2 linked regions of the Homo sapiens genome follow. The protein of the gene in region 2 interacts with the protein of the main gene of each other region in a biochemical or structural test. Each region holds a gene or a part of one and is shown on either strand. Other genes may lie near its edges.

Region 1 (15,614 bases), on a different chromosome or scaffold from region 2:
GGTCAATAATTTCCCACTGTTTGATGAAAAAAGTGACTTTTTGATAAGTTTATAAAAGAATAGAAAAATAGACAGGACGAGTGCCCAGCTCTGGCCATTATAAGATGCCCCAATTTACAATCACTACCATGCCCTGATCAACTTTCCAAAGGTCACAGAAACCAAGCCACTTCGCCAAAACCTAAGACCCTTTCAAGCTGTGAAGTTCCCAAATGGAAAAGAAAAAAAAAAGATCAGAAAGTATTTTGAAAAAAATTTAGCAGAGTCACTGTTTTGGAGTGACAGGAAGAACCTTTCTAAAGCAGGCATGGTTTCTTCCTGATTCCAGGTATCAGGACTAGCCTCCTTACGTGGGGTCTGCCTGACTTCACATGCCTCTGCTCAACTTTCCCCTTGAAACCTTGCTGTAATGACTGAATGCAAACATTTCAAAGAGACAATCTGTTTATCAGTAAGGAACCTCCTCTTTAAAAATATTAACATTGTACACCTCTAAAAGGGTTAAAGAACATGAGTGAAATGACATGAATAAAGCCTGTAGTCATCCCAACCCTGAATAACAGCGGTAGTCTAGCAGGGAAATGAATTTGAACCATGTGCTTTGCTACCATGATTTAAAGAAAGTGAGCTTAACCAGGGAAGTAGAAGCTTCAAATTAAGAGAGAGATGAAGGAGGATGAAGAACAAGGAGGGCCAGCACAGACCTGGAGGGCTGCAGTGGCATGAGACCCCTGGACGCCACACAGCCTGCACAGGGAGGCTCCTGGGGCATGGGGCATGAGTCCTTACTTCTCTTTCACATGACTACCAGCTCCCAAGATCCAGAATTCCACTATCACCATAAACAATTTCAAAAACTGCTGTGAATTAAACAGATTCCTTCAGTCTAGGCTGGGAACGTACCCACCACTTACAATGCTGAATCAACACAATAGATAGAAATTACTACTAGTAGATCTGAGTTCCAAATAACTGAGTTAGACTCTGGAACACAACCCAGTCTTGAGTTGGGGACCAAATGTACACACTGCCTGCCTCCAAAACAGAAATTTCATCTGGGCTCTTGCTCATTCACTTTCAGAGAAACACACAGTTCATAACCATCCTTTGAAGGTATGATATGTTATTTGTTCTACTTGATAAAAGTAATTCAGTCCACTGCACTCAAGACACTGTCATAATGCATAAAAAGATCAAACTAGCAGTCTTAGGGAGAAAAAAGAAGACTTCCAACTTATCTTTTCCTACAGTAGCACTGTAAAGCAACAGTGGCCCACAGAAGAGAGAGCCTAAAGGACAGTTACTCTATTTCTAAAACAGACAACGTGCATCTTATTAAATATCACCCCCAAAGAACTGTGGCCAGCCCTCATTGGCTCCAGCCTCTCTCTTGCTTGCCAAGAAAAACTAGGATGACATTGTTAAGCTAAAGATACTACTAACCACAAAATTAATTCACCATCTAGCTTCCAAAGTGACTAGTTTCCTAATAAATCCCTCTGCTTAACAGAGATGACAGCGCACTTTCACGTGTGTTCCTCAGTCCCCACTCCAGCCACATTTGAGTTTTTATGTTAATAAATCAGTCAATTCTTTAAGTTCCTAAGAATGAAAGGAATTAGAATCTTTAACTAGGAAAGAATGCTTGACCATTACGAAAAGGAATTTAAGTATCTTTCCTGTGAAGTAAGCAAATAATGGTGATTAAACATTTGTCATAAGGAAGGGATGCTTGTGAATTTTGTCATGCACCCCTATGATATCAAAAGTAGAAAATACAGCCTGACGGCTTCACTCTCCTAACACTTCCTTTCCCATGTGTGTCTACTATGGTCTCTCATGAAAAATCTACAGCTTTGTTCATCCAGAATGAAGGCCTCAGCAGTTGTTGAGACATGGGGACCCACACCCAGTTCCACAATGGAGCAAGAAAGTCTCTTACACCAAACCACCATGTGACCAGACTTGCAGTCTGTCTTGGTTTCCCAAAGACAGAACAACCACATTGTGAAACAATAATCAACCTTTGCTAATCCTAAGTGGTTTTCATTATGTCTGTTACAATCTATATATTAATAGTTCAGTACTGGGCCTGTGTTGTTCCTGTCTAAACTTGGTGTTTTCAAATACAGACGGCCTACTAATGCCAATTTTTCTGGCAAGATGCAATGCAAGGGCACCTTTGCAATAATAATCGGTCTTCCAAATACAAGACAAATCTTTAAAACCACTGCTTACTAGTGCTCAGATTATAAGACTGAGGAAATTTAAAAGGATCAATAAAATACTGTCAAGGAGCTTTACATTAAAAATAGAAATCAAGTTTACCAAAGGTTTATCCAAGAGATATCATGTATTTTCAAGTTTCCTAAAAATGCATCTAAAAATCCTCCTAAAAACCTGGACCAAACTTCACAGTTTAATACATGCACAACCTGAATATGTGGGAAAAAGCAACAACAACAACAACATAGGTACATGCTACCAACTGTGGTGATTAACTGAAGAAAACTCCGTGAATAGGCTTGGTTTGCAGATCTGGCAAAAGAGCATGACGAAAGGCTAAGCAAATGGAACTGCTGCACTGGGTCAAAGACTACAAAGGGAAAGCCATGTCAGGTTCACATTGTTAAATAAAAAATCCACACTATACTATAAATTCACACAACTAACTATAAAAATTAATTCATACCACACAAAGGAAGGGGCAGTTAAGTTCCTGATCTTGGGTAAATCTGTCAAGCTCCTGCCACCAAAGTCTCCTCATCTGTAAAATGAGGAATAGACCAGCCCACAGTGCTTCCTGTTCTGGCTGTGATTCAGAGTCACCAGGGAACTCACACCCAGGCAGCTGGATTCATATAGGTCCACAGATGATCATCACAAGGCAGTCAAGAATGAGGACCTCTGTACCTGAGCAATAATCTCCCAAATCTCCCAAAATAATATATCCTTTAAAAGATGGTGAGATACTGGTGCCAAATATAATCCATTATTCATAAATTTTTAAGAAGAAATGTAGATCATTGCCTGACCAAAGGGGAAAAAATATAACTGCCTTCCACATACAATGTATAGGCCTTCCTACTCCCATTTATAGTCTCTCTCACTCTGACCTTTGCATTATATTAATTACTCATTACTGCAGCAAACGGGAGGAACTGTATTTTTGTTATTAATGTAAGATCCAAATGACAGGCCTAATTTAACATACCATAAAACTATAGAGGCTCTTTTCCCACACAGGATGTTACACTTTATCACACTGTAACCAGAAGAGTTATCTCAAGCACTGCAGTGCAATCTCCTTCAAATCCTAAAAAAATCCATCTTTTGCCAGGAACTTTCCTTAAAATGGACAGACAGACACACAGACAGAGAGACTGAATACACAGACCTGAATAGAGAAGACTGTCTGAATAGACATTTCCAATTCAGACAGATGCAAAAACACTGGAGGTGTTTTTAAGACCGCCTTCCCATCCTAAAATTAGACATTTTTTGCCCTCTTCAGTGACTCAACTTTGATTCAAAGTCTAAAATCCTCAGGTGGGAGTAGGAATCCATACCCTTAATAGCTTAATGTCAGATGTAAAATGTATTAAACTTACTCTATTTGCTTCTCTGCAGTTCCATTCATTAACAGACATTTAAGAGAGAAGAGAGGGAACAGGAATGTATTCAGTACCTACTCTGTATTAGGCACTTCATATAATTTTCCTTGCTTAATCTTGCCAATGACCCTGCAAGGTAAGCCTTTTGCATCTCCACACTACAGAGGAGGAAAGTGAAGCTCAGGGAGGTGAGGGAGCTGGCAAAGTCACAGCTAGCAAGAAGCGGAGCCAAGAGTGAAGCCCAGCTCTATCTGGCCCTAAAGGCCTGCACCCTCACGGCCTCAGTTCCCCTAAATACAAAACTCTCTTAGAACGAGAACTACAGAAGGTACCCATAGCTCACTGTCCCTAACTAGACAAAAAAGTTGACATTTTTCTTTCTCTTCTGTACTACCTTGCCACAATCCAAGCTTTAACGAACACACAAAGAAAAGGTATCCCGAAATGGCCAACTGGTTTCTCCTAATTCTCAGAAAGGTGCTAAGTGAATTTATTTATTTATTTATTTATTTTTTTGAGACGGATTCTTTCTCTGCCGCCCAGGCTGGAGTGCAACTCTGTCGCCCAGGCTGGAGTGTGATGGCGCAGTCTAGGCTCCCTGCAGCCTCTGCCTCCCAGGTTTCAAGCAATTCCCCTGCTTCAGCCTCCTGAGTAGCTGGGACTACAGGCGCGTGCCACCACACCCGGCTAATTTTTGTATTTTTAGCAGAGACAGGTTGGCCGTGTTGGCCAGGCTGGTCTCAAACCCCTGACCTCGTGATCTGCCCGCCTCAGCTTCCCAAAGTGCTGGGATTACAGGTGTGAGCCACCACGCCCGGCATGAAATATTTTTAATTAAAGTATTTTAAAAATAAACATAATCTGGGAGGCCGAGGCGGGCGGATTATGAGGTCAGGAGATCGAGATCATCCTGGCTAACACAGTGAAATCCCATCTCTACTAAAAAATACCAAAAAATTAGCCGGGTGTAGTGGCGGGCGCCTGTAGTCCCAGCTACTTGGGAGGCTGAGGCGGGAGAACGGCGTGAACCTGGGAGGCAGAGCTTGCAGTGAGCTGAGATCGTGCCACTGCACTCCAGCACTCTAGCCTGGGCGACAGAGTGAGACTCTGTCTCAAAAAAAAAAAAAATGAACATAAGAACACAAAATATAACTAAAGAATACTAATTTGAGTCAGACACCCCAAGAGAGGAGAGCATGAACAAAAGAATGAAGAGGCTGGGCATGGTGCATCACGCCTATAATCCTAGCACTTTCGGAGGCTAAGGTAGGAGACTTGCTTGAGCCCAGGAGTTCAAGACCAGCCTATACAACATAGTGAGACCCCATCTCTACAAAACATTAAAAAAAAAAAAAAAGAATGAAAAGAAAGTACACACCCTTAAAATCCAATTTACAACCATTCTCATGAGTGTGACAGGGGTAGTTCCAGTACTAACTGACCAAATACTATCAGGGTCGGCCTGTATGCATTTGGTGTGACTAAATCGTGTTCGCTGGCCATCTACCCTACTGAGGAGACTGTGCGCCAGTCATTACTGTTCATCGGGGGAAAGAACCTGGACGAGAATGTTCTGCCATTGGGGAAATGTTTTAAACACTCAGTTTTACATTTGAGCACTTTTTGGTAAGAGCTGGACTTGGATGCCAGAAGGGCAAAAGGGAGTTACCCCATTCATGTTATTTTAACATAGGCAATAAAGACATTCATGATAATCAGAGAAACCCACTGACCTCAGGATCTTTCCAGTTAACTTCAATAAACAATCATTCATTCAGCGAATATCCAGTAGGCACTAATGACCAAGCCATGAACAAGAGAATCTCAGTCTGCCTTCCATGTGAATTGCTCTATTGCATTCTGCCTTGTATGGAAAGGCACCTTTCAGACTATTAGCTCAAATTCAGGTCCAGTTCTTTGTAGCAAACAGTCCTGATGAATGTACAATACATGAGGGCAGGGACAAATGTCTGCCTGTGAGATGAGGAAGTTTTCATGGAGGAAAAACCTCATGACCCATGTCCCAAAGGACAAGTGGGATTCTAGAAGTAGAAAGGCGATGAAGTAATAAATTCATCACAAGATTTGAAAGCTGGGATGTTTCAGGGAGTGGCACTAGAGATGAAGACATTGGAAGGGGAATAGTGAGAAATAAAGCAGGCTGAAATCAGAGCCCACCTTACTCCACACCTCATTAAGGAGTCTGAACTTTATTTTGTGGGTAAAGGTGAGGTCACCAGAGGATTTGAACAGGTGAATGGCATGTTCCCTGATGAATCCTTTTTCATCTATAGCATACCTTAAAATATATTAATTCAAACCTTTCCCCAGTCCTCTCACATTTGGGTTTCAACTTATATAACCAAAATATTGAGGAGGGTGTGGTTTAAGGTCTAATTTCTAACTAGTAAGACCCCACTATTCATAAATTGGAAATCATCAAAATTTAAAATCTTTGTTCCTAAAAAGGGGCACCATCAAGAAAATGAAAGGACATGTCAGAATCCAAGAAAATTTTTGCAAATCATACAGCTGATAAGGCACTTGAATCTAGAATACATGAACAACTTTTATAACACCAATAAAAAGACAACCCATTAAAAAACGGGCAGAGCATTTGAATGGACATTTCTCCAAAGATTACACATACAAATGTTCACCAACCACATGAAAAGATGCTCAACATCATTAGCCATTAGGGAAACACAGATGACTAGAATCAAAAAGTCAGAGAGTAACAAGTGTTGGCAAGAATGTGGAGAATTTAGAACCTTCATATACTCTTGGTGAATACCGTAAAATGGTGCAGCTGCTTTGGAGAAGTCTGGCCATTCCTCCAATAGTTAAATATAGAGTTACCATACAACCCATCGATTACATTCCTAGGTAAATACTCAGGAGAAATGAAAACGTATGTTCACAGCATTATTCATAATAGCCAAAAAGGAAAAACACCCAAATGTTCATCAACTGATGAATGGATAAACAAAATACGGCATATCCAAACAATGGAATATTATTTGACCATTAAAAAAAAAAAATGAAGTACTATACAATACTACCACACATATAAACCTTGAAAATATGCTAAATAAGGGCAAGACACAAAAGACCACATAGTGTATGATTCCATTTACATGAAACGGGAGGACTTCTAAGGGGTATGGGGTTTCTTTTTGGGGGGGATGAAAATGTTCTAAAATTGACTGTGGTGACAGCTGCACAACTCTGTGAATATACCAAAAACCACAGAACTGTACACTTTAAACGGGTGAACTGTACAGTATGTCTCAATGAAGCTGTTATAAAACAAAAAAAGTTCCATTCTGCACTCTAGAAATACAAAGTACTCAGAAAGGAGTACAGAATCTTGTTCACTCACTTTAAAGGATCTGAACTAGGGCAAAGAAAACCCAGAGAGATTCTATTACTTAACATTCTAGGTACTAGGTCATACTGAAATATTCATGAAGAATTCTGTTTTAATACAGAAAAGGTATCTTAAGTTTAAAAAGACATACAAGTGTCAGAAAAGAGTTTTCATAATTCAAGGAGACAGTAACACAGAGAAGTCATAAATGGAAAACAAGCTTAAGAGGTTTTATCACATGGATTTGTACCTTGAAAATGCAAGTAGCTCTCAAATTTATTATTGCCCCACCCCTGGAAAAGAGGTCAAAGGTAAAACAGACCAATTAATAATATGTTTCTAAAGTACCAGTTTGTGACAAATCAAAATATGAGAAATTAAAATTTTGCCATCATAAAGAAGAGACTCGTCGACATACCCACTTATATAACTAAGAATTGATATTCATCCTTTTGAACATTCCATCTCATAGTCGTTAGAGTGACTCTCTTCCTCATGGTTGGAGTGGATCCCAGAAGTGACAGATAAGTTAAACATAAAACTTTTATCAAAAAATCCAACGGTGTTTAAAAAAATGCTATTCACTGACACCGAATCTAATCCTAAACTATATATAAATAAGTATAAATGCTGATTAGCACAATCTGCAGGCAAAGTAACAAAGGATCATGAAAAAGTCAATATTGTGTGCAGTTATGTTTCATCGGTATGTATCTATTAAAATTCATCAGGCTTTAATGTACCTTCCACAAGTAATCAAAATAAATATGGACAAGATAGGTTCTATATTTGTCAAAAATGTGTGCTCCTGACGTTTATACCAAATCTTTGTCCAATCCTCAGTACACACGACTAACCTCCACCACGAAACACTGCACTTCAAGACCTAAGGTACAACACAATTCTCAGTTTTATTTCACTTTTTTCCCTACTTATTTATGCGATTTCTCAGATCCAATGTTTACTATTATGCTTCATAGCCAAACATTATGACTGTGAAACATACCTCCAAACCAAAAATACTAGTTTCCTTAAATCATCTGAAATGTATAGAACCAAGTCCAAAATAGATTTTGCACATTTCTTCAGTTTTACAGGGAATGCAGAAAGTGAATTAATATTAAACAGGTATCTATTTGCCTTCACAACTGAACAGACGGTACAAAGCAACTGCTTATACTTAATCATGTTTCTGTCTATTCCAGCAGGCCCTGGTGTCAGGAGAACGTTCTGCCAGATAAGGACAATGAGATGCATTATTATATAGAGTGACTAAGAGCCCTACAAGTACTGTTTTAGAATGTAATCCCAGGCAGAAAGGCTGCGGTAAGAGGGCCTAATATTTTGTGGTAACTATTTCCAAAAGTAAATATATTCGCCACCCAGGACCAGTTTATTAAACGCGCACTACATTCAATTCTTTTCAAATGTCTTATAGGAGGGAAAAGCCTTTGTATCTTACCATGCCGGGGGAAATGAACAACTTGCAATTTGCTTCGCACTCTGAATCCCACGTTTGCAACATGTAGAGCAAGCACTTTAGACACCACAAAACAAGGGCAGCCTACATTACGGCCAAATATAGGATGTGTTTCTAAATCGTGATGCAGTAAAGCCTACGATTCCTTTTCCAGCGTTCAAAATCCTTTGAACACTCCCAAAAAAGGATGCCAGGGCCAGCGCCTCCCTCCAAGAGGAAGCCCCTTTCTTCTCAGCTCTCACCGCAGCCTGCCACTTCCCCCAACACATTCAAATCATTTGAGAGACGGAGAGCTGGGGAGCGTGCGCCGGTGGGGACAGGCGGGAGAGCTCGGTTTCTGCATTCCCACCCTCCACGTCTGACCTCATCCTCAGTCATTTCGGCGCAGCGGGGCCCCACCTGCACCTCGCTCCTTTTTACTGCGTCCCTCGCCAGCTGCCCCGCTATTAGGGAAACACACCTCTGAATCACCCAGTTCACTCGGACACCCTGGGCCCCCGATCCGACAGCCTTCCTGCTTCGTTCCTCCCCTCCCAACCCCCAGCCAGTCCCAGCCCTCTGCTCCCTTGGCCGGGCTCAGCCTCTTCCCAAGCCGCCCCCACCCACATTACTCCAGCTCCAGCTCTGCCCCGCCCCGCCTGACCCCCAACCGAGATCTGCAGGGCCCAGAGCTGGTCTCGCACCCAAAGCCAGGAAACCCGCAGGCCAGGCGGCCGCCCTCGCCCCTCCCGACGCAGGGCCCAGCTCGCCCCGGCCCCACGTGAGCCCGGCCCCTACCCGCCCCCACCCACTCGTTCCCTGGGGCGGCCCAAACCCAGTCCCCAGGCCTGGAGCCCCCGGGCTCTACGCCTCGCCCGAAGCAGCCCTTCCCTCCCAGCACCTCGCCCAAGCAGGCGATCCCTGACCCCTAAAAGCCTTCCCTGGGCAGCCTCGTCCCACCTCGGCCCGCGGCTCCGCACCCGGCCAGGAGCGTTCCGGACCTCGAAAGCCTCCTCCCCACAGGGACCCTGCTTCACGCTCCCCACGCCACCTGGTTCGGTCCCCAACTCCCTTTCCCCGAGCCCCCGACAGCAGCCCCCGGCCCTAACCCCTTGCAACCCAGCCCGTGAACCCGCGCCCCGCGCGCCCACCCAGCACTGTCCCCTCCACCTAGCCCTGCCCCTCGCCCCGCCGGCTCCTGTCAGGCGGCGCAGGCACATGCTCAGAGGACAGGTCCGCCCGCCCGACTCGCTCTCAGGCTGCCCCCGCCGGGCGCGAGCCGCTCACCCGGGCCGAGGTGCCTGAGGCGCCGCCGCCGAAGTCCCCGCTGCAAAGCCGGGCGAAGCCTCCAACCGCTGCCGCCTCCAGCCTGGCACTGAGCGCCGTGCGGGGGAGGGGCGCGGGCAGCCGCCACCGCCCCCGCCACCGCGCGTAGGCCCCGCCCCCGCGCCGCGCGGGACCCAACCAGGGCTGCCGGGCCGCTGTGCGCCACGCCCACTTCCGGAGGGGAAGCCCGCTTCCCACCCCACGTTCCACGCCTCGCTACGCCCCCTCTGGTCGCACCGAGGGATGCAGGCGGTGCCCAAGCGCACGCCCCGCTCTCCAGTCATCTGAGTGGTAGAGGGCCACGCCCACAGGCGCCTCCGAGCAACGCCCACTGCTCCTTAGACCCCGGAGCGGGGTTCTTAGAGCCCCGCCCACTGACCCGCTAGGCTCTGCAAGGCCACGTCCCCTGGCTCCTCAAAGATTCCCCCAGAGCCCCTCAATACAGGAACATTAGCTCCTCTGAGCCCCGCGCACTGCCTATCCGAGTCCTTAAACCAGCCTCCTGCTTCCCTAAGCCCGGCTCCCCTCCCACTGCTTCAGAACTCGCCCAGCGGCCTCACAAAGCCCCGCCCCGTCTTCCAGAAGCCCCGCCCAAGGACCGCAACCCTATTCCTAGCATCTCAAGCCCCGCCCACTACCCCATCTCAACGTTTAAACCCCAAGCCCCGCCCCGAATTCGCGAATCCACGCCTCTGGCTCCCGAGGCTCCGCCCTGGCTCCGTCACACCCTACCACCACCTCCCTTGAGGACTGCCGACGTTCCAGCCCTCCCTGAACCGTCCATTGTCACATTCCTAGTGCAGAGTGGCCGCCCCTGGGCTGGGCCACACCCACGTAACCCCAAAGAGGGCCCGTGATTGACCCCATTTCGCAGGTGAGGGAATGGAAACTTCAGGGTTCCTCCCTTCCTTTCCCTGGCCAGAGTCCCTTAATAACTCGGCGGCCCAGGCCTGAAAGTCGGAGCACGGGAATTTGAGCCTCAGCTCTGCGGCCGTCAGACTGTGTGACCTGGGACAGTTCTCTTACCTCTTTGGGCCTGAGTCCCCTAATCTTCAGCATGAAGAAGTTGTCCTGTTAATAGCTAAAGTCCCTTTCTGAAACACCAAGCTCTGAAATACCGAGATTTGAGGAAACAGAGCCTGGGGAACCGAACCGACTGTGGGGTAGGGCTATTTACTTCCCAAAGCAAGGCATCTTTGCCATTCACAGGGGGATTTTTTATTTTAAGCGTCAGCCTCAGAAACGTGTGTTATTTAAATCAAGCTTGACCTGAACTAAGACAGCTATCACAGCAAATTATTTATCCTCTCTAAGGGTCAGTTTCTTTATCTGTAAAATGGGGATAACAGCCCCTCCCTCACAGGGTTCCATGAGATCATATTAGCAGCCATGATCGTGGCATTACTTTTTGCCATTAAAAGGAATGGCAAAAACCGCGATTACTTTTGCACCAGGATAATAGTAATATACTTAGAAGAGTTCCTGGCTTGTGATAAACGCTCGACAGTACCTGTTGCTGCTACTGCTGGGACTCAACAAAATGAAAGGATGGGTTTTATTTTGCCTTCAAGCAGCCACTCCTAATAGGAGGAATTCAGCACCCTTCCTGCAGTAAGATTTGCCACTCACTTTATTTAAATGAGATAAACGTGATGAAACGCCTACTGCAGTGCCTGCCATATGGTGAGGCTCAAAAACAATTCACTTGTTTTTGTTTGTTTGAGACACAGTCTTGCTCTGTCGCTCAGGCTGGAGTGCAGTGGGGCAGTCCACGGCTCACTGCAGCATGGACCTCCCGGGCTCAAGTAATCCTCCCACCTCAGCCTCCCACGTAGCTGAGACTACAGGCACGCGCCACCATGCCCAGCTAAATTCTTAACATTTTTCTGTAGAGATGAAGTCCTGCTATGTTGCCCAGGCTGGCCTCAAACTCCTGAGCTCAAGAGATCCTCCCACCTCGGCCTCCCAAAGTGTTGGGATTACAGGTATGAGCCACTGTGCCCACAATTCAATAGTTTTGAACAATAAAAGTTGTTTTTTTAAAATCCACTAGTTAATAAATTAAACAGGGGCATTGATAGCAGTGAGTTCTGAGTGCTTTGGGGAAAATGAAGATTGGTAAAGTGCTTTGAGTTCCTTTTTTTTTGAGACGGAGTCTTGCTCTGTCGCCCAGGCTGGAGTACAGTGGCGCGATCTCAGCTCACTGCAAGCTCCGCCTCCCAGGTTCACGCCATTCTCCTGCCTCAGCCTCCCGAGTAGCTGGGACTACAGGCACCCGCCACCACGCCCGGCTTATTTTTTGTATTTTTAGTAGAGACGGGGTTTCACCATGTTAGCCAGGATGGTCTCGATCTCCTGACCTTGTAATCCACCCGCCTCGGCCTCCCAAAGTGCTGGGATTACAGGCGTGAGCCACCGCGTCCGGCCGAGTTCCAACTGGAAACCACGGAGTAAGCTAGCTTATTCTTTGGAAACAGATTATTGCTAACATTTATCCATCACTTAGACATGCTAGGCACTATCTGAGTGCTTTACATGCAGAATCTTCTGAAATTGCTCAACAATCCTATGGCCACAGAAATAATTCTTTTTTTTTTTTCTTTTTGAGACGGGGTCTCACTCTTTTGCCCAGGCTGGAGAGCAGTGGCTCCATCTGGCTCACTGCAGCCTCGAACTACCAGGCTCAAGCAATCCTTCCACCTCAGCCTTCCAAGCAGCTAAAACTGCAGGTGCACACCACTTTGCTCACTAATATTTTTACTTTTTGTACAGATGGGGTCTTGTTTTGTTGCCCAGGCTAGTCTCAAATTCCTGGCCTCCCAAAGGTGTTGAAATTACAAGCATGAGCCACCACACCCAGCCCAGAAGGGACTCCTAATCCCCACCTATAAAGGTGAGGAAACTGAAGACTCAGAGAAGTTAAATTCCTTGTCCAAGTCACATGGCTTGAACCACGTAGAACCCACATCCATCTAAATGCAGAGCCTGCACCCTTAGCCAGTTAGTCATTACACTAAACTGCCTCTGTGGCAGCATGACAGAACAGAAAAACCGTGGACTTTGGATTCTGGCCGGTTTAGGTTTAAATTCAGGCTCCACCTATTACTCATTGTGTGACGTTCAGCAAGTCACTTCCCCTCTGAGCTGAGCCCTATTCTTCTGCCTATATATCACTGGGAATCATGTAAATGCTTCAGGAAGTGGTTTTGAATATTCAGGAGTTTAGATTCAATGAATTAGGACGTGGCAAAGCACCCAACACAGTGCCCAGCACAAAATAGTTGTTTTAAAACATGTTGATGTTTAAAAATCACAGGGTTCCGGCCAGGAGTGGTGGCTCACACCTGTAATCCCAGCACTTGGGAGGCTGAGGCAGGCGGATTGTTTGAGGTCAGGAGTTCGAGACCAGCCTGGGCAATATGATGAAACCCCGTCTCTACTAAAAATACAAAAATTAGCCAGGCATGGTGGCACGCGTCTGTAATCCCAGCTACTTGGGAGGCTGAGGCAGAAGAATTGCTTGAACTCGAGTTTGGAGGTGGAGGTTGCAGTAAGCCTAGATAGCGCCACTGCACTCCAGCCTGGGCGAGAGTGAGACTCTGAAAAAAAAAATAGAAATAAATAAAAATAAAAAAATCTTGGGGTTCCATGAGATCATAGATAAATGATGAAGTTAGAAGTGATGAAATGATAATGATGAAATTAGAAGAATTCCCCCCGCCAGATGATACCGCCAAAAAGCAGCCATGGAATATGCTACGAAAGATCCCAAGGCCTTCATCTTCTGACTGCCTCTTTCAGTTCCTGGTTTGAGCCCTGCATTTGAGGAGGTGATTCTTGCACAGGAAGCACCCAATGCCAGAAGCAATGCCACCTCACTTTCACTCCATGCCTATCCCAAATGTGGTCAGCTGAGAGCTGCTTACTTCCAGAAACAGGAAAACTGCATAACTCTGCTGGGAGAAAGCCCCATCATCTCATTGTTCTTGAACCTACAGCAATTGCTTTGTGGGCCTGAAAGAAACCTTGGCTCTGTCCAAGCTGGCCCTAAAGGGAGGGATCCAAGTCCAGGTGAGATGCTGGATTTAAGAGTTTTTTCCTGCTCTCAAAAGCTGGTGATTTCTAAAGTGGCTTAAGACAGGTGCTAGATGGAGAGGAATTTAATGATCAGGAAAAATAAAAATGATTCCAGACCACACATGATATAGATGCCAGCTTATGTATGAAGTGGAAAGAACTGTGGGCCCAGCATCCAGAGGCTCCTTAGCAAATCATTTTTCTATTTTTTCTGAGTACCAAATGGGGACATTTGTTTTAGGTTGCTAGGGCAACCTAGAAGCTCAGTGAATTACCCTGTGGAAGCATTAACAAATAATAATATTATTAAATAAATGAGACTGGAAGTCCCTAGAGTAATCTCAGTAGACAAGACCCCTAATTGAGCGATAGAAGACAACAAAATTTGAAGAGCACTAAAATTCACTCTACATTGATAAATCTTCATTCTCACCACTTTGGGTACTTCTTTCTGCAAAATAGAGACTGGAAAAATACTGAATGATTGACAGGCTACAGACAAATGCCTTTTTTAAAATTAAAATTGTAATTTTGAGATAATTACAGATTCACATACAAGTGTAAGAAATAATACAAAGAGGCCAGGAGTGGTGGCATGCGCCTGTAATGCCAGCTACTTGGGAGGCTGAGGCACAAGAATTGTCTGAACCCAGGAGGTGGAGGTTGCAGTGAGCCAAGATCACGCCACTGCATTCCAGCCTGAGTGACAGAGCGAGACTCTGTCTCATTAAAAAGAGAGAGGGAGGGAGAGAGAGAGAGAGAGAGAGAGATCATGTGTGGGCCAGGTACAGTGGCTCATGCCTGTAATCCTAGCACTTTGGAGGCCAAGGCAAGTGGCTCACTTGAGCTCAGAAGTTTGAGACCACTCTGGGCAACTTAGTGAAACCCCATCTCTACAAAAAATTTAGCGAAAAATAACAACAAAAAAAAGAGAGATCACATGTACCCTTTATGCAGTTTCCTCCAGTGGTAACATCTTGCAAAACTGTAGTACATTATAACCTGGATATTGACATGGATACAGTCAATGTCAATATAGATGTTGAAAATATTTCCATCACCACAAGGATACTTCATGTTCCCTTTGATAGCCACACCCACTTCCACCTTCCGTTCATCCATCCCCTCCTTAAGCCCTGGCAACCACTCATCTGTTCTACATTTCTAAAATTTTGTCATTTCAAGAATGTCATGTAAATGGAATCATATAGTATGTAACCTTTTAGAATTGACTGTTTTCACCCTGCATAAATCTCTGGAGATGCATCCAGGTTGTTGCATGTGTGAGTAGTTTGTTCCTTATTATTGCTGAGTAGTGTTCCATGGTACACATGCACCACGGTTTAAATATTCACCCATTGAAAGACATATTGTTTGACCTATTCACCCATTGAAGGACACAGGTTGGAGCTATTATGAATAAAGCTGGTATAAACGTTATAAACATTCATGTACAGCTTTTTGTGTGAACGTACGTCTTCATTTCTCTGTGAAAAGTTCCCAGGAGTCCAATTGCTGTGTTATATGGTAGTCGTATGTTCAGTATTTTAAGAAACTGTCAAACTGTTTCCCAGAATGGTTGACCCATTTTACATCCCCACCTACCAGCAATCTATGAGTGCCAGTTTCTTTGCATCTTTGTCAGCATTTGATGTTGTCACTATATTTTATTTTAGCCATTCTGATAGGTATAGAGTAATACCTCATTGTGGTTTTAATTTGCATTTTCCTGTTGGTTAATAATGTTCAAAATCTTTTCATGTTCTTA
Region 2 (16,294 bases):
TCACACACTCCCTGTCTCTACCTCCTTGGGTCAATCTCAGCATGGGGTAAGGATCTTTTGCTCTGATGGCAAAATTCAGCGTTCCAACAGTCTGGAGCTGTACAGCTGATAACTGCAGTCTTGGATGTCTAAACACAATCTTGCTTTTGGAAACTCACTCAAAATAGGATACAGGAGACGCGGAAGCTCACCTGGCCTTTCTTTTTAGTTTCATCCTAACATACTGTGTTCGGAGGGCAAATGTCTGGAGTCTGGCACAGCAGACTAGACGTCAAAGGAAAACAGTTCCTGTGTTCCAGTTTCTCAATACTTTGGCCATTGTCTAGTCTAGCCTGATCCAAGACCCCGGGCAAGACCTTTTGACAGCTTTTGACGGGCTCTCCTCCACTGCCTAACATGTTAACCCTTTCACCCAGAAGGCACTTTTACAAAGCATATTCCCATGTGCAATTTGCAGGGACATCAGGAGTTACAGCATTTGGAGATCCAGTTCCATCCATGACTTTGGACAAGGCCCTCGAATTCTGTGCCCCAGTTTCCCTATCTATAAAACGGACGTAGAAAATGTGTTATTAGACACTGCCTGCGCTTCTCTGGAGGAAAGCACTCTGCTGTTAACCCTTAAACACCCTTAGGAGATGGGCACTTATGGAAGGAAAAAAACCTCTCCGGGTGTCAGGCTCTACACCCCAGGTGGAAGTTCTTGCTCTCTGGGGGTTATCTGAGAATCTGGTGAAAACTTAGACCCTCTTCTGAAAAACATATCCCACACCACACCAAACTTAAAGAAAGTTCTGTGGGGGTGGGGAGATGCTGTGGCGGCAGATGCCGGGTTCAGATCTCCGGCTCTGCAGGCTTTTTCGGGAACGTTAACTTGAGTCAGCCACGACCTTAATTAAGATTTGAGAAAACAGAAGCCCGCCCAGGACCCTAGGAGATGCTTCTTCACTTGGGGGGGCTACAACAGAGCCCTCGCGAGCATCCTGCAGCTTCGGACCACCGGCGGCAAACAAAGCCCGAGCACCGCTCAGCCGGGGGGCTTCCCCGACCTCGGGGGAGGGCTCTGCGGAGCATGCGCGGCGGCCGTCAGGCCCCGCCCCCCCCGGGCGCCGGAGCCGAGGCGGCGGGAACCTCAAAGCCCCGGCGCAAACGGCCGCTCCCCGCAGAGCGCCGGCCGCCCCCTCCCCGCGGCGCCCGGGCGCAGCGGCGGCCACGGACGTGTGGGGCCCGCTGGCCGCCCCCTCTTCCAGGCCGGGCGAACTTACCGAGGTCCCCTTTCCCGGGGCGGGGGGGGAGGGGCGCAGAGGGAGCTGTGGGGGCGGGGCCATGACCCCCTCGTGCGGGCTTCGGCCGCCCCTCCCCCGCCGCGGGCCCGGGCGCGCGCCCCAACCGCCAACCGCCCGCGCGGTGCCCGGGGTCGGGTAGGCCGCGGGCCGCGCGCCCCGTACCGAGCCCTTTTGTTGCGCGGAGGCGGAGGCAATGATTCAGCCCGCGGCCTGCGCCGGCCCGGCCGCCGGGAGGGAGCGTGACGCGAGGCGGCCCCCGGCTGGAACGCGCGCCGTGCCGCGTCGCTGAGCCCGCCGGCCCCGGCCCTGCGCCCACCCGTCTACCCTGACCCTCACTCACGACGCGCTCCTTGGTGTGCTCGGGTTCGGTGATGACCACGGCCGCGCCGCCCGCCTTGCCTGCTGTCGCCGGCCGCGCCGCGCGCTTGCCCCCGCCGGGGGCCCCGTCGAGCTCCAGGCCGTCCTCGTCGCCGCTGCTGCCGCCGCCGCTGCTGCTACTGCAGCGCTCGGGCCGCTCGCGCTTCCTGCCCGCCGGGCCGCCGCGTTTCCTGGGCCCGGCGCGGGCAGTGCCGTTGCCCGAGCTCGGCTCCTCCCAGGCCGCCGCCGCCGCCTTCTTCCTGGGCATGGTCGCGGCTGGAGGGAGACACGGGGCAGCGGCGCACAATGGACGGGTTATAAACTGCGCGGGGGGAGGGGAGCGGAGACGAGCCACCCGGCCTCCACTTCCTCCTCTGCCCTCCCCAAAGTGGCGGCCGCAGGGTGGGCGGAGAGGGGGCGAGTTGGGAGAGGAAATCGCGCCCCTCCCTGGCCCCGGCGCGGCTCCTTCGGGGAATCCCGCAGGGCAGCCGGGAGCCCCAGAGGCAATCCCCTGGAGGGAGAATTGAGACCCCCGGCCTATCCGTAAGTTAGGTTTGCCCACAAAGCATCACAGTTGCAACCTCGCCCCCCAAAAGTAAAGGGAAAGTAAAACCAGCCTCCAGTCCCCTAGATTTTCATTAAAGAAGGCTTCGGGACACTTCCAGGATTCCCCCTTGGCACCTGGGTGGTAAGGGAGCCCCTGCTCCCCGGCTACCCCACCTGCTGCTTTTGTCTCCGCAGTCTCCCCCCAAACCCACTCATGGCATTTAATGCAACGCTCTCCCCCACCCCGCATCAGCCCTGGACCCCCGTTCGGCCCCAGCTCAGGGGTGCCGACCTCGGGCTCTAGTTAGCCGAATCCCTACGGCGGACTGCCCCCGGCGACGGGGGAAGAGCCCGAAGAAAGCTGGACCCCAGCCCCAAACACCTGCTCGCACAGACACGAAAAATAAAAACTTTAATGGTGCCCAACTCTCTCCCAGCCCCCTTGCCGGCCGTGCGGCCCGGCCGGTCTCCGATTCGACTGCAAAGTGTCCAGGGCCGCCGCCAGCTCCCCGGCGTCCCTGCGCTCTCCCCTGTCTGCTTTTTTTTTTTTTTTTAATTGATTTTGAACAATGGGATCTCTGTCTGTCTCCGATTAAACCACGTGGATCCGCCTTCCTTCCTCTTTTTATTCCTTCAATCACCCAGCCCCCCTCCCCCAGGTTTTTTTTTAACCTTTTCTCTTTAAAAAAAGGAAAAAAAAAAAAACTTTCCCAGACCCCACAAACTGATCACTGTCGATTTTCAGACCCTACCTGGTTGGAGTGATGAGAAACCGGAGAGAAAAAAGGAAGAGAAGCAACTAAAAGACGGATCGGAGGGCTTTTTTTTTTCCGGCCCAGACGAGGGCTCCAGCCCACTCACCAGATACACTTAAAATGTAAATACGAGCTTCCAGAACAAATGCTACAACACAAAACAGAAACACATGTGCGGCCGCGCGGCAAGCGAGCGCGCGGCGGGGCGGGAGGCGCGGGGCGCGGGGCGCGCGCGCCCCCTGCCGGCCGGCGGACCCGTTGCCGGCGCCCCCGCCCCGCCCGGCCTGGCCCTGCCCTGCCCACCCGAGCCTGCGCCGCGCGCCGCGCGCCTCGCCGCCCGCCTCGGCTCCGCTGCTCCTGCGCCTTTCGCGGGCCCGCGAGCGCGCTTTGGGCCTTCCACGCAGTGCGGCCTGCGCGTCAGGGACTTCTTTGCGGCTTAGGAGGATGTTGGATTGTTTTTCCTGGGCACGTCTAGACAGGTCACATGAGGACACTCGCTGGAAAATAGTTACTTCGCTCACGCAGCAGCCAACAAGGGACGTGCCCTAATTGAGTGATTGGAATGAAAGATGAATACAATTTGAATAATTTTTTCCTGTGCAGAGAGAAGCTGAGTTTTATTTGCCTGTGGATGTGTCCTCAGTATGTAACAAGGTGCTGTGACACGGAAGAATCACATAAAGGTTTGCTGTATTAGTGAATTAATTCATAATTAATTTGAGGGCCGTGGAGGCACTGGAAGCTGGCTTTGAGGGGAACTTTTTCATTTTTTGCCAAATATTTACTGAGCCCCCGGTACATGCAAGACCCACAGTGCCCGGGGCTGCAGAGCCAGTGAACAAGGTTTCCACCCCAGTGGAACGCACAGCCTAACGGAAAGACAGATCAGTAAACAAGTAATTACAACAGTGGTAAGCTTTACAAAGTGATGCCTGTGTAGGAACATTATGGCGAGGGGATTTATCCTAGTCCAGGGCCAGGGAAGGCATTCAGGTGGAAAGTTATGCTGAACAACTTAAAGGATGAATAAGACCCGATGAAAGGGGGCAGGAAAAGTATTCCAGGCCAGGTGGAGTGAACGGGACGCTCCACATTTCGAGATCTTGAGAGACACCTCCTGGGAGGGAAGCTGTCTGGTGGGGCTGGGGTGAGAAGAGCCAAGAGGCTGGGTTCTGAGGAGGTAGGCAGGGGTGCGAGGGCCTGCATAGACCCTAGTGAACCGCAGTGAGGCTTGATCTCGTTCGCGTGTCCTGGGACGGGTGAAAAAAGCCTTGCTTGCTTCCTACCGGTCTCCACCCTCCACCTCTCCACCCCACTTCCATTACGATCTCACCGTCACTTGCTCTCCTCTCAAAGCTTTTCTCCTGCTTCTTTTTTCCTGAGGCGTACCGCACAAGGAAGTTCCTTCTTCAGGCAACTTCTTGAAAACGCATAAAGTTCTAGGATTTTTGTGATTCATTCATTCATTGTTAGTGCAAGAAACAGGACTGGGAAGCATCAAGTGTCCTGTAAAGGAAGACAGAGAAACCAAGAGGCCCAAATCTAAGGTATTTGATCAAAGTCAAAAGTCTGTGTGTCAAGAGAGCTGAGAGTGCTTATGTAAAAGAACTTTGGAAATGAGAAATCAACTGGTACGTTTCAGAGATTTTCAGAAAAGTCAAGATGGAATAGAAGCACCCTTTGAAAGCCTATTCTTAATAGACCTGCATTTAAAAAGATTTTTTAGAGGTTAAACTTTGACGCTTTGATATAAAGCATAAGTAGAACCAACCAGAAAAGAATTTCGCCTAAATATGCCATCAAGTCCCCTTCAGGAAATGGCATGCTGATGCTTGTCAGCCGAGGCGGGTGGCTGGGTGTTTATCCTCTAAACACCCTGTGTGGCCAATTAGGAACACCACTGACAGTACCTTTAGATTTCAGTCTGCAAGTCTTTTCCTTTTTTCTCCTGCCCCTTTATAATGCTTTTTGCCAGCTTAAAAGACTCATGCCTCAGACACACTGATGCAATGAGACGCTAATATCATATTGCATCATCTGATCCTAGGTGTGGTGCTCCTGAAACTGGTTTTTCTTGAGGTTATGCTGCAGTAGAAAAGCACTTTGGGTATAACACCCTGGAACTGGCCCTACTTGTCAGAAGACAAAAGTAATTTTTGCAACTCCATGCCTCAATTCCACACCACTATTCTCCCAGGGAAAGCCTGCGTGACTCTCCCGGCTGGAATTGGGTGTGCAACAGACATTCATCAGTTAGGCGTGTCATGCTGCCACTTATGTAACAAATGTTACATAGTGAGGTGCACCTACAGGCAAGCTGAAAATGACACTTCCTCCTTCAAACTGTGCTTGGAATTTCACCTCGCTTCTAATTGAGCAAATTCTCCAGGGACAGGATGGTTTGGTGCAAAACCGGGAGAGGGGAAGGGAAAGAAGGTGGCTGAGATTTCTCTGACACTTTGAGGCACAGGTGTCTGGCACTGTGCTGAGCATTTTACACCCAGAATTTTGGAAATGTGGCTGCAAGTGCCAGCCTGCCGTCACTCTTTAACCTCATCTTCAGCAAAATCATATTGCAAGTTAGATTCAGCTACGCTTAAGTTCTTTTCCAGGGGTGAGGTGTGATTTTTTCTTTCTTTTTTTTTTTTTTTTTTTTATTTTTTTAGATAGAATCTTGCTCCTCCAGCACCCAGGCTGAAGGGTGATGGTATGATCCCAGCTTACTGCAGCCTCTACCTTCCTTGCTCAAGCGATCCTCTCGCTTCAGCCTCCCAAGTAGCTGAGACCACAGGCATGGACAGCTACACTTGGCTAAATTTTTTTTCTTTTTTAATGTTTTGTAGAGACAAGGTCTCTCTCTGTTGCCCAGGCTGGTCTCGAGTGGTCCTCCCACCTCAGCCTCCCAAAGTTGCGGGATTATAGGGGTGAGCCACTGTGCACAGCCTCAGAAGTATAATTCATTTTTTTTTTTCTTTTGAGGTGGGGTCTCGCACTGTCACCCGGGCTGGAGTGCAGTGGTGGCAACCTCCACCTCCCAGGTTCAAGCAGTCTCCTGCCTCAGCCTCCCAAGTAGCTGGGATTACAGGCGCATACCACCACGCCTAGCTAATTTTGTATTTTTAGTAGAGACGGGGTTTCACCATGTTGGCCAGGCTGGTCTTGAACTTCTGACCTCGTGATTTGCCCGCCTTCGCCTCCCAAAGTGCTAGGATTACAGGCGTGAGCCACTGTGCCCAGCCTCAGAAGTGTAATTCTATTCAACTTGGCTACAGAAAGCTACACCTGTACTTGAAAGATTAATTTTCTGATCCAGTGTCTATAAAAATGAAACCAGTGATCCTGGGAGTGATGCGCTAACCAATGGAAACGATTCTTTCTCTTTTTTTTTTTTTGGAAACTGGGTCTCACTCTGTCACCTAGGCTGGACTGTAGTGGCGCCATCTTGGCTCACTACAGCCTCGACCTCCTGGGGTCAAACAGTTCTCCTGCCTCAGCCACCCTAGTAGCTGAGACTGTAGACGTGCACCTCCACGCCCAGCTAATTTTTAAAATTTTTTTGTGGAGACAAGGTCTCACTATGTTCCCCAGGCTGGTCTCAAACTCCTGACCTCAAGCAATCCTTTTGCCTTGGCCTCCCACAGTGCTAGGATTATAGGCATGTGTCACTGTGCCTGGCTTCTTTTTACTCTTTTCAATGTGACTACCACAAAATTTAATATTACATATTAAGTTTTTTGTAGCTCATATGTTATTCCTGTTGGACATCACAGCCTTCGAAAGCATAGCTGGAAAACCAGTAATTTCCTCCAGACCCCACTCTTTCTGCATCTGTTCTCTAGTTTCTCCTCTCTGTAAAATGGCAAGATAGAGTTTGGGCTAAATTTCTCTTGAGGTTACTTCTGGATTTCGTATTCCCTGATTCTGAGGACAGTAGTCAGCGGGGAATCCCTGTCATAGTGTTTGGAGAGATGTTTTCTGGGAGATGCAGATCCGGTCGTCCTATTTCTGCCAATGAGTCATGAAATTTTCAAACGCAGAGTCTTTAAATATTGTAGTTGGACCTTTAAGTTCTCTGTCTGTGAGGCATGCCTGGGCTTGGCTTGTGGCTTCTTCATCTTTGTTTTTCTAGCAAGCACCCAGAGCAGCCCGGCGTGTAGTAAGCTGTCAATATATGTTTGTTCATCTAAATAATATCCAGCGGAAGAACTGAAGCCCAGGGAGATGCTGAGGCCTCCTGAGGCCACACAGCTGGCAGATAGGATAGCCAGGAAGTGTACAGGCATCTGCATCAGTAGGAGGATTGTCAGAAACACAGAATCTGGCCAGGCGTGGTGGTACACGCCTGTAATCCCAGCACTTTGGGAGGCTGAGGCAGGACGATTGCTTGAGCCCAGGAGTTGGAGACCAGCCTGGACAACATGGTGAGACCCCATCTCTACAAAAATTAGAAAAAAATTAGCCAGCCGCGGCCAGGCGCAGTGGCTCACGCCTGTAATCCCAGCACTTTGGGAGGCCGAGGCGGGCAGATCACTTGAGGTCAGGAGTTCGAAACCAGCCTGGCCAACATGGTGAAACTCCCGTCTCTGCTAAAATATACAAAAATTAGCCGGGCGTGGTGGCAGGCAACTTAATCCCAGTTACTTGGGAGGCAGAGGCAGGAGAATCGTTTGAACCCGGGAGGCGGAGGTTGCAGTGAGCCAAGATCGAGCCATTGCACTCAAACCTGGGGGATAAGAGTGAGACTTCTCTCAAATAAAAGAAAAGAAAAGAAAAAAATTAGTCAGGTGTGGTGACGCAAACCTGTAGTCCCAGCTACTTTGGAGGCTGAGGTGGGAAAATCGCCAGAGCCTGGGAAGTCCAGGCTGCTGTGAGCCATGATCATGCCATTGCACTCCAGCTTAGGTGACAGAGTGAGACCCTGTCTCAAAAAAATAAAAATAAACACTGAATCTCAGGTTCAGCCCCCAGACCTACTGAATCAGAATGTGTTTTTTTTTTTTTTTTTTTTTTTTGAGTTGGAGTTTCCCTCTTGTTGCCCAGGCTGGAGTGCAGTAGCGCAATTTGGGCTCACTGCAACCTCCACCTCCCAGTTCAAGCGATTCTCCTGCCTCATCCTCACAAATAGCTGGGATTACAGGCACCTGCCACCACACCCAGCTAATTTTTTGTATTTTTAGTAGAGACGGGGTTTTGCCATGTTGGCCAGGCTGGTCTCGAACTCCTGACCTCAGGTGATCCACCCACCTCGACCTCCCAAAGTGCTGGAATTACAGGCGTGAGCCATCACACCCGGCCCAGAATGTGCATTTTTAACAGGTGATTTTTATGCATCTTAAAGTATGAGAGGTGCAGCCAGGCATGGTAGCTCACACCTATAATCCCAGCACTTTGGGAGGCTGAGGCGGGCAGATCACCTGAGGTCAGGAGTTCGAGACCAGCCTGACCAACATGGAGAAACCCCGTCTCTACTAAAAATTAGCCGGGCGTGGTGAGCGGAGATTGCGCCATTGCACTCCAGCCTGGGCAACAAGAGCGAAACTCCATCTCAAAAAAAAAAAAAGTATGAGAAGTGCTACTGAAATCATACCACTTTTCCATACCCTGTGGAAGCCATTCAAAAGGTGGTTTCTCATACTTTAAGATGCATCTAGCTGGGCGCAGTGGCTCACGCCTGTAATCCCAACATTTTGGGAGGCCGAGGAGGGTGGATCACGAGGTCAAGAGATCGAGACCATCCTGGCTAACACGGTGAAACCCCGTCTCTACTAAAAATACAAAAAATTAGCCAGGCATGGTGGCGGGTGCCTGTAGTCCCAGCTACTCGGGAGGCTGAGGCAGGAGAATGGCATGAACCCGGGAGGTGGAGCTTGCAGTGAGCAGAGATCGCGCCGCTGCACTCCAGCCTGGGCGACAGAGCAAGACTCCGTCTCAAAAAAAAAAAAAAAAAAAAAGATGCATCTAGTCCAGGGTGAGGAGGTCCAGGATGCAGAATACCAAGACTCACCAAGCTGGCTGATGTGGTTAGGCTTTGTGTCCCCACCCAAATGTCATGTTTTTATTTATTTATTAATTTATTTATTATTTATTTTTTTATTTTTTGAGACGGAGCCTTGCTCTGTTGCCCAGGCTGGAGTGCAGTGGCGCGATCTTGGCTCACTGCAGGCTACGTCCCCTGGGTTCACGCCATTCTCCTGCCTCAGCCTCCCGAGTACCTGGGACTACAGGCGCCCACCACTTCGCGTGGCTGATTTTTTGTATTTTTAGTAGAGACGGGGTTTCACCGTGTTAGCCAGGATGGTCTCGATCTCCTGACCTCGTGATCAGCCCACCTCAGCCTCCCAAAGTGCTGGGATTACAGGCGTGAGCCACTGCGCCCAGCTATTTATTTATTTATTTTTATTTTATTTTATTTTTTTGAGATGGAGTCTCACTCTGTTGCCCAGGCTGGAGTGCAGTGATCTTGGCTCACTGCAGCCTCTGCCTCCTGGTTCAAGCAATTCTCCTGTCTCAGCCTCCCAAGTAGCTAGGATTACAGGCACACACCAGCACACCTGGCTAATTTTTGTGTTTTTAGTAGAGATGGGGTTTCACCATGTTGGCCAGGCTGGTCTCAAATTCCTGACCTCAAGTGAGCCACCACGCCCGGCCTCCTGCTGCCTTTTGAAGAAGGTGCCTGCTTGCCCTTCTGCCATGATTGTAAGTTTCCTGAAGCCTCCCCAGCCATGCTGAACTGTGAGTCAATTAAACCTCCCTTGTTTATAAATTACCCAGTCTTGGGTAGTATTTTTATAGCAGTGTGAAATCGGACTAATACACTGGCCTAATGAAGACTTAAGGAAATTCAACAGATATTTACTGACCCTCTACACTGCCCCGGGCCTGGCAGCTGGTGCACCCACTTCTCTTCCTGAGGGTTGGAGGAGCTCACGCTTTTGCAGCCCCTGTTGCCTGCATCTGAAGGAGTAAGCAACCACTTCACAGTTTTGCCATCAGCTGGGCCTGCTCTTCCTCCTTTAGTACAGGAGAAATTTGAAATGAAAATGAGCACACCTTGGGAGTTAAATCTAATTTTTCAGGAAAAACAGGATCGAAATCACTTTCATCAATGTCTGCCTGTTAGTTTGTAACCACCGGCGCTCCCAATCTGCAGGAGTGTTTGCATTCATGTTGTGTTCCTGGCTTGAGATAGAGCCACAATTTGTAAAGCTGGTCTGTAATCAATAGCTCTCCAGTCGGCCGGGCGCGGTGGCTCACGCCTGTAATCCCAGCACTTCAGGAGGTCAAGATGGGTGGATCATGAGGTCGGGAGACTGAGACCATCCTGGCCAACATGGTGAAACCCCATCTCTACTAAAATACAAAAAATTAGCTGGGCGTGGTGGCACGTGCCTGTAGTCCCAGCTACTCAGGAGGCTGAGGCAGGGGAATCGCTTGAACTCGGGAGGCAGAGATTGCAGTGAGCCAAGAGTACCACTGCATTCCAGCCTGGGTGACAGAGCGAGACTGAGTCTCAAAAAAATAAATAAATAAAGGCTCTCCAGTCATTTTCTAAGACTATCCCTCACCTAAGCTTGCAAATAAAAGCTAACTTCTGCAGAGATTCCATCTTCCCCTGCCAGTGGGCAATATGGATGTATAGTCATGAGATTAGAAAAAGAGAGGCTGGCCAGGCACGATGGCTCACGCCTATAATCCCAGCACTTTGGTAGGCTGAGGCAGGCAGATCACCTGAGGTCAGGAGTTAGAGACCAGCCTGACCAACATGGGGAAACCCCGTCTCTACTAAAACTATAGAAATTAACCAGGCGTGGTGGCAGGCACCTGTAATCCCAGCTACTCCGGAGGCTGAGGCAAGAGTATCGCTTGAACCTGGGAGGTGGAGGTTGCAGTGAGCCAAGATCATGCCACTGCACTCCAGCCTGGGTGACAGAGTGAGACTCTGTCTCAAAAAGAAAAAGAGACAGAGGCACAAACAAAGTGCAGGTCCTACAGCTGTTCATCCAGCATCGATTGCGAAATGAAGCCTAGCGGGTGGGCGACTTTTGGGTGAGGTCAAGAACCATGAGAGTTGGAATGGACGAGAAAAACCAAGGCTTTGGGCCCAGCTGCAGAACTGTGTCATTTGCCGGGAAGGTTAATGACAAGGCCAGAAGGAGTGCCGCCTGTTTAATGTATCAGGTGGCCCTGGTGGCTGGGAATCATTGCATTTCAGGCCACGTCATGTCATGCAAAAGCATAATAACCTTTTGAAAAATGAAGAAATCGATCCCGTGGGGAGTCCCTGCAGTGCCAAATATCTGGACTGTCTGATTTTCACATTCACTAAGTGGCCTGAGTCAGCTAGATGAAGCAGAGGAGTTCTTAAATAGAACCAAGATGCTCTCTCTGGTGTGCACTGAGCTCTTACCTTGCGCCAGACATTGGGCCAGGCACTCCCCGTAAAAAGCTGGTTTCATCTTCATAACATCCATGCAACACGGATACTTTTGTGGGTCCCCGTATTAGTTTGCTAGGGCTGCCATAACAAAGTACCACAGACAGGGTGGCTTAAAATCAGAACCTTATTTTCTCACAGCTCTGGAGGCTGTAAGTCTAAGACCAAGGGGTCAGCAGGGTTGGTTTCTTCTGTGGCCTCTCTCCATAGCTTGTAAATGCCACCTTCTCTCTTGTCTTCACGTGATCTTCCCTCTGAGTGTGTCTGTGTCCTCATCTTTTCTTACAAGGATACCGGTCACATTGCATTAGGGCCAGTGTAATGACCTCTTTTTAACTTTATTACCTCTTTTGAGACCCTATTTCCAAATACAGTACAGCCACATTCTGAGATACTGGTGGTTTGCACTTCAGCATATGGACTCGGGGGGACGTATTCATCCCCTAACAGTCCATTTTATAGATCTGGAAGCCAAGACATAAGTTAAGAAACTTGTTCACGGTCTCACAGGTGGAAGTGGTGAAGTCAGAATCTGAAAACCCATTCTTTCTTTTTCTTTTCTTTTCTTTTTTTTTTTTTAGAGATGGTGTCTCACTCTGTCTGTCAGGCTGGACTGCAGCCTCAGTCTCCTGGGCTCAAGCAATTCTCCAGCCTCAACCTCCGGAGTAGGTGGGACTATATGCGTGTGCTACCGTGCCCGGCTAATTTTTTCATTTTTAGTAAGAGATGAGGGCTTGCTGTGTTGCCCAGGCTGATCTTGAACTCCTGAACTTAAGTGATCCTCCCACCTCGGCCTCCCAAAGTACTGGAATTACAAGCATGAGCCACCTTGTCTATTTTCTTTTTGTTGTTGTTAATTTGTGTGTGTGTGTGTGTGTGAGATGGGAGTCTCACTCTGTCGCTGAGGCTGGAGTGCAATGGCGTGATCTCAGCTCACCACAACCTCCGCCTCTCGGGTTCAAGCGATTCTCCTGCCTCAGCCTCCCGAGCAGCAGGGACCACAGGCATGCGCCACCACGCTAGGCTAATTTTGTATTTTTAGTAGAGATGGGGGTCTCTCCATGTTGGTCAGGCTGGTCTTGAACTCCCAACCTCAGGTGATCCGCCCACCTTGGCCTCCCAAAGTGCTTGGATTACAGGCGTAAGCCACCATGCCTGGCCCACCTCATCTATTTTCAGAGGCTGAGATTTATTGCCGCTAACTTCAGGGTTCCACCCAAGCCATTCCTACACTTATTCCACTGTCCCCACTGGCCTCTCCTTAAACACCCCCTCCTGTTAGGACTCCTGCTTGCTCCTTATCTTGCTATCTCTACAGAGGTCTTGGTTCTGAGGCTGGAAACAGAAGGGCCTCTGGAGTGAATAACACATGGTTCTGTGGGCTTTGAGTGTCACGCAGAGGCATCATCTTAAAAGACAATCTCGGCCAGGCGAGGTGGCTCATACCTGTAATCCCAGCACTTTGGGAGGCCGAGGTGGGTGGATAACCTTAGGTCAGGAATTCGAGACCAGCCTGGCCAACATGGTGAAACCCCGTCTCTACTAAAAATACAAAAATTAGCTGGGTGTGGTGGTGCATGCCTGTAATCTCAGCTACTGGGGAGGCTGAGGCAGGAGAGTCGCTTGAACCTGGGAGGTGGAGGTTGCAGTGAGCTGAGAACGCACCACTGCATTCCAGCCTGGGCGACAGAGTGAGACTCCATCTCAAAAATAATAAATAAATAAATAAATAAATAAATAAATAAATAAATAAATAAATAAAATAAGTGTTTGGATCATGAACACTTATGTGGTTCATAAAAGTGATTGAGTTTTCATGTTCATGTGTTGAATGTGCCTCCCTCAAACCTTGTTAAGTCATCAGCACATTACCCATTTGATGTGAACTTAGAAAAAAATAAAAGAGGGCCAGATAACAGTGGCTCACACCTGTAATCCCAGCACTTTGGGAGGCCAAGGTGGGTGGATCACTTAAGGTCAGGAGTTTGAGACCAGCCTGGCCAACATGATGAAACTCCGTCTCTACTAAATAAACAAAAATTAGCTGGGCATGGTGGTACATGCCTGTAATCCCAGCTACTCAGGAGGCTGAGGCAGGAGAATCACTTGAATCCAGGAGGTGGAAGTTACAGTGAGCTGAGTTGTCACCGCTGCAATCCAGCCTGGATGACAGAGTGAGACTCTGTCTCAACAAAAAAAAAAAAAAAAAGAAAATGTTTTTATTTAAAGAAAGACATTTACTCAGGTGTTGCATAGCTCTAGCAAAAATGAGGAAGATGGTTCCACAAACCACCTTGGCTTGAGGAATAGGATTTGATGCTTCTGGCTCCTCCCAACTCTGATGTTCTCCAGTCTACGATGGACCATGGCGTCTGACTGTCTAGAAAAATCCATGATGAAGGAAAGTTGGGTAGTGTACAAGAAAGCAAGCCTGCTTGAAGGCATGCATTGAATTACACAGGTTGGGTCCCAATCCACAGAAAGCCTTTTGCCTTTGAAAGTGTTACCAGGCGGAGCACTGGGGCTCACGCCTGTAATCCCAATACTTTGGGAGACCAAGGTGGGAGGATTGCTTGAGTCTGGGAGTTTGAGACCAGCCTGGGCAGCGTAGGGAGATCCTGTCTCTACATAAAATTTAAAAATTAGCTGGGCAGGCTGGGCGCGGTAGCTCACGCCTGTAATCCCAGCACTTTGGGAGGCCGAGGTGGGCGGATCACCTGAGGTCAGGAGTTTGAGACCAGCCTGGCCAACATGGTGAAACCCCGTCTCTACTAAAAATACAAAAATTAGCTGGGCATGGTGGCAGGTGCCTGTAATCCCAGCTACTCAGGAGGCTGAGGCAGGAGAATTGCTTGAACCTGGGAGGCGGAGGTTGCAGTGAGCCGAGATCACACCATTGCACTCCAGCCTGGGCTACAGAGCAAGACTCAGTCTCAAAAAAAAAAAAAAAAAAAAAAAAAAAAAAAAAAAAAAAATTAGCTGGGCATAATGGTGTGCATCTGCAGCCCCAGCTACTAAAGAGATTGAGGCAGGGGGCTCACTGGAGCCCAGAAGGTGGAATGAGTTATGCTCGCGCCACTGCACTCCAGCCTGAGCGGCAGAATGAGACCCTGTCTCAAAAAAATTTAAAAAAAGTAGAAAAAGTGTTGCCAAGTGTGCGACCTCGTCATCAGACAGTGGCAGGATTATGGGGCTCAGGAAGCAGGAAGTCAGCACCAAAGGAGGATGTACCTCGCTGGTGGGAGCCTGATCTTGGCCTATATGTAGGAAAGAGTCTTTTTTTTGAGATGGAGTCTCGCTCTGTCGCCCAAGCTGGAGTGCAGTGGCGTGATCTCGGTCCACTGCAACCTCCACCTTCCAGATTCAAGCAGTTCTTTGCCTCAGCCTCCCGAGTAGGTGGGACTACAGGTGCCCACCACCACACCTGGCTAATTTTTGTATTTTTAGTAGAGATGGGGTTTCACTATCTTGGCCAGACTGGTCTTGAACTCCTGACCTCGTGATCCACCGGCCTCGGCCTTCCAAAGTGCTGGGATTACAGGTGTGAGCCACTGCATGGGGCCAAGACAGTCATTTCTGTGTCCACTAGTTGCCCTGCAAAGTATCATTTTTAGCTGGAATCCAATCCTTCCTTTGAGGAATGAGAAAACTAAGACCCAGGGAAGCTGAGCTGTCTCCAAGTCTGAATCGAATGGAGGGGAACCATGTGTCCACGCCCTCGAGGCTGTGGCTTAGTCCCTGCCACTCTGACAACGAAACCACTCATTATTTTTCATCTTCTCGGCGGTTTAAATCACTGTTATTATGCACGCATTTTTCAAAAGAGTGCATTCCTTACCAAACCTCATTAAATTTCTCGAGACTTGAGCTGGTTCCCCTTCCTTGCTTCAGAGGGAAGGAGGGAATTTGGCTGACACAGAAGCATTTTCGTCCCATACCATCACCACCTGATGCTGTCTGTCCAAAACAGGGTGTTCGGGATGTCTGGGCAACCTGTCTGATACAGAGGGGGTTTCAAGATGACTCACAGAGCAGGGATGGGCACAGGTGACCCCACAGTCTCAAGCAGGGCCCTTCTGGGGCAGCTGAAAAGTGTGGACTAGAGCAAGAGATAGCTCTGGAACTGTTTGGGTTCAATTCCCAGCTCTAGCTGGTTGTGGGGGCTCATGCCTGTAATCCCAGCACTTTGGGAAGCCGAAGCAGGACAATCACTTCAGGTCAGGAATTTGAGACCATCCTGGTCAACATGGTGAAACCCTGTCTCTACTAAAAAATACCAAAACTAGCTGGGCATGGTGGCTTGTGCCTGTAGTCCCAGCTACTCGGGAGGCTGAAGCTGGAGAATCGCTTCAACCTAGGAGGCAGAGACTGCAGTGAGCTGAGATGGCGCCATTGCACCCCAGCCTGGGCGACAGAGACTCTGTCTCAAAAAAAAAAAAAAAAAAATCGGCCGGGCTCAGTAGCTCACGCCTGTAATCAAGCACTTTGGGAAGCTGAGGTGGGTGGATCACGAGGTCAGGAGTTCAAGACCACCTAGGCCAAGATGATGAAACCCCGTCTCTACTAAAAATACAAAAATTAACTGGGCATGGTTGCGGATGCCTGTAATCCCAGCTACTCCAGAGGCTGAGGCAGAGAATTGCTTGAACCTGGGAGGCGGAGGTTGCAGTGAACCAAGATCGCACCACTGCACTAAAGCCTGGGCGACAGAGCGAGACTCCGTCTCAGAAAAAAAAATCTTGTTTTAGACCAGAAAAAGCAGCTAAAAATAATACATGAGGAAGGTCCCGGCTCACATCAGTAAGATGCTTTCAAGTTTACAAAGCACATTCATCTTCCCTCTTGGGTCTCATGACCAGTTGGTGAGGACATGGGTCACAGATTATTATGCCCATTTTATAGTATGGGAAACTGAG

The links.
Region 1: the proteins of RCC2 (region 2) and CORO1C form a complex in vitro, tested with the Homo sapiens proteins (one study listed by BioGRID).

The regions. Positions count from the first base shown.
Region 1 is NC_000012.12:108,721,699-108,737,312, forward strand, and holds the start of CORO1C (coronin-1C), read right to left. Parts: upstream 9,821-15,614; 5' UTR 9,731-9,820; intron 9,146-9,730; exon of another isoform or gene 8,925-9,145; intron 1-8,924. UniProt on the Homo sapiens protein: Plays a role in directed cell migration by regulating the activation and subcellular location of RAC1. Increases the presence of activated RAC1 at the leading edge of migrating cells.
Region 2 is NC_000001.11:17,436,604-17,452,897, forward strand, and holds the start of RCC2 (protein RCC2), read right to left. Parts: upstream 3,075-16,294; 5' UTR 2,942-3,074; intron 1,934-2,941; exon of another isoform or gene 1,920-1,933; 5' UTR 1,912-1,919; coding exon 1,627-1,911; intron 1-1,626. UniProt on the Homo sapiens protein: Multifunctional protein that may affect its functions by regulating the activity of small GTPases, such as RAC1 and RALA. Required for normal progress through the cell cycle, both during interphase and during mitosis.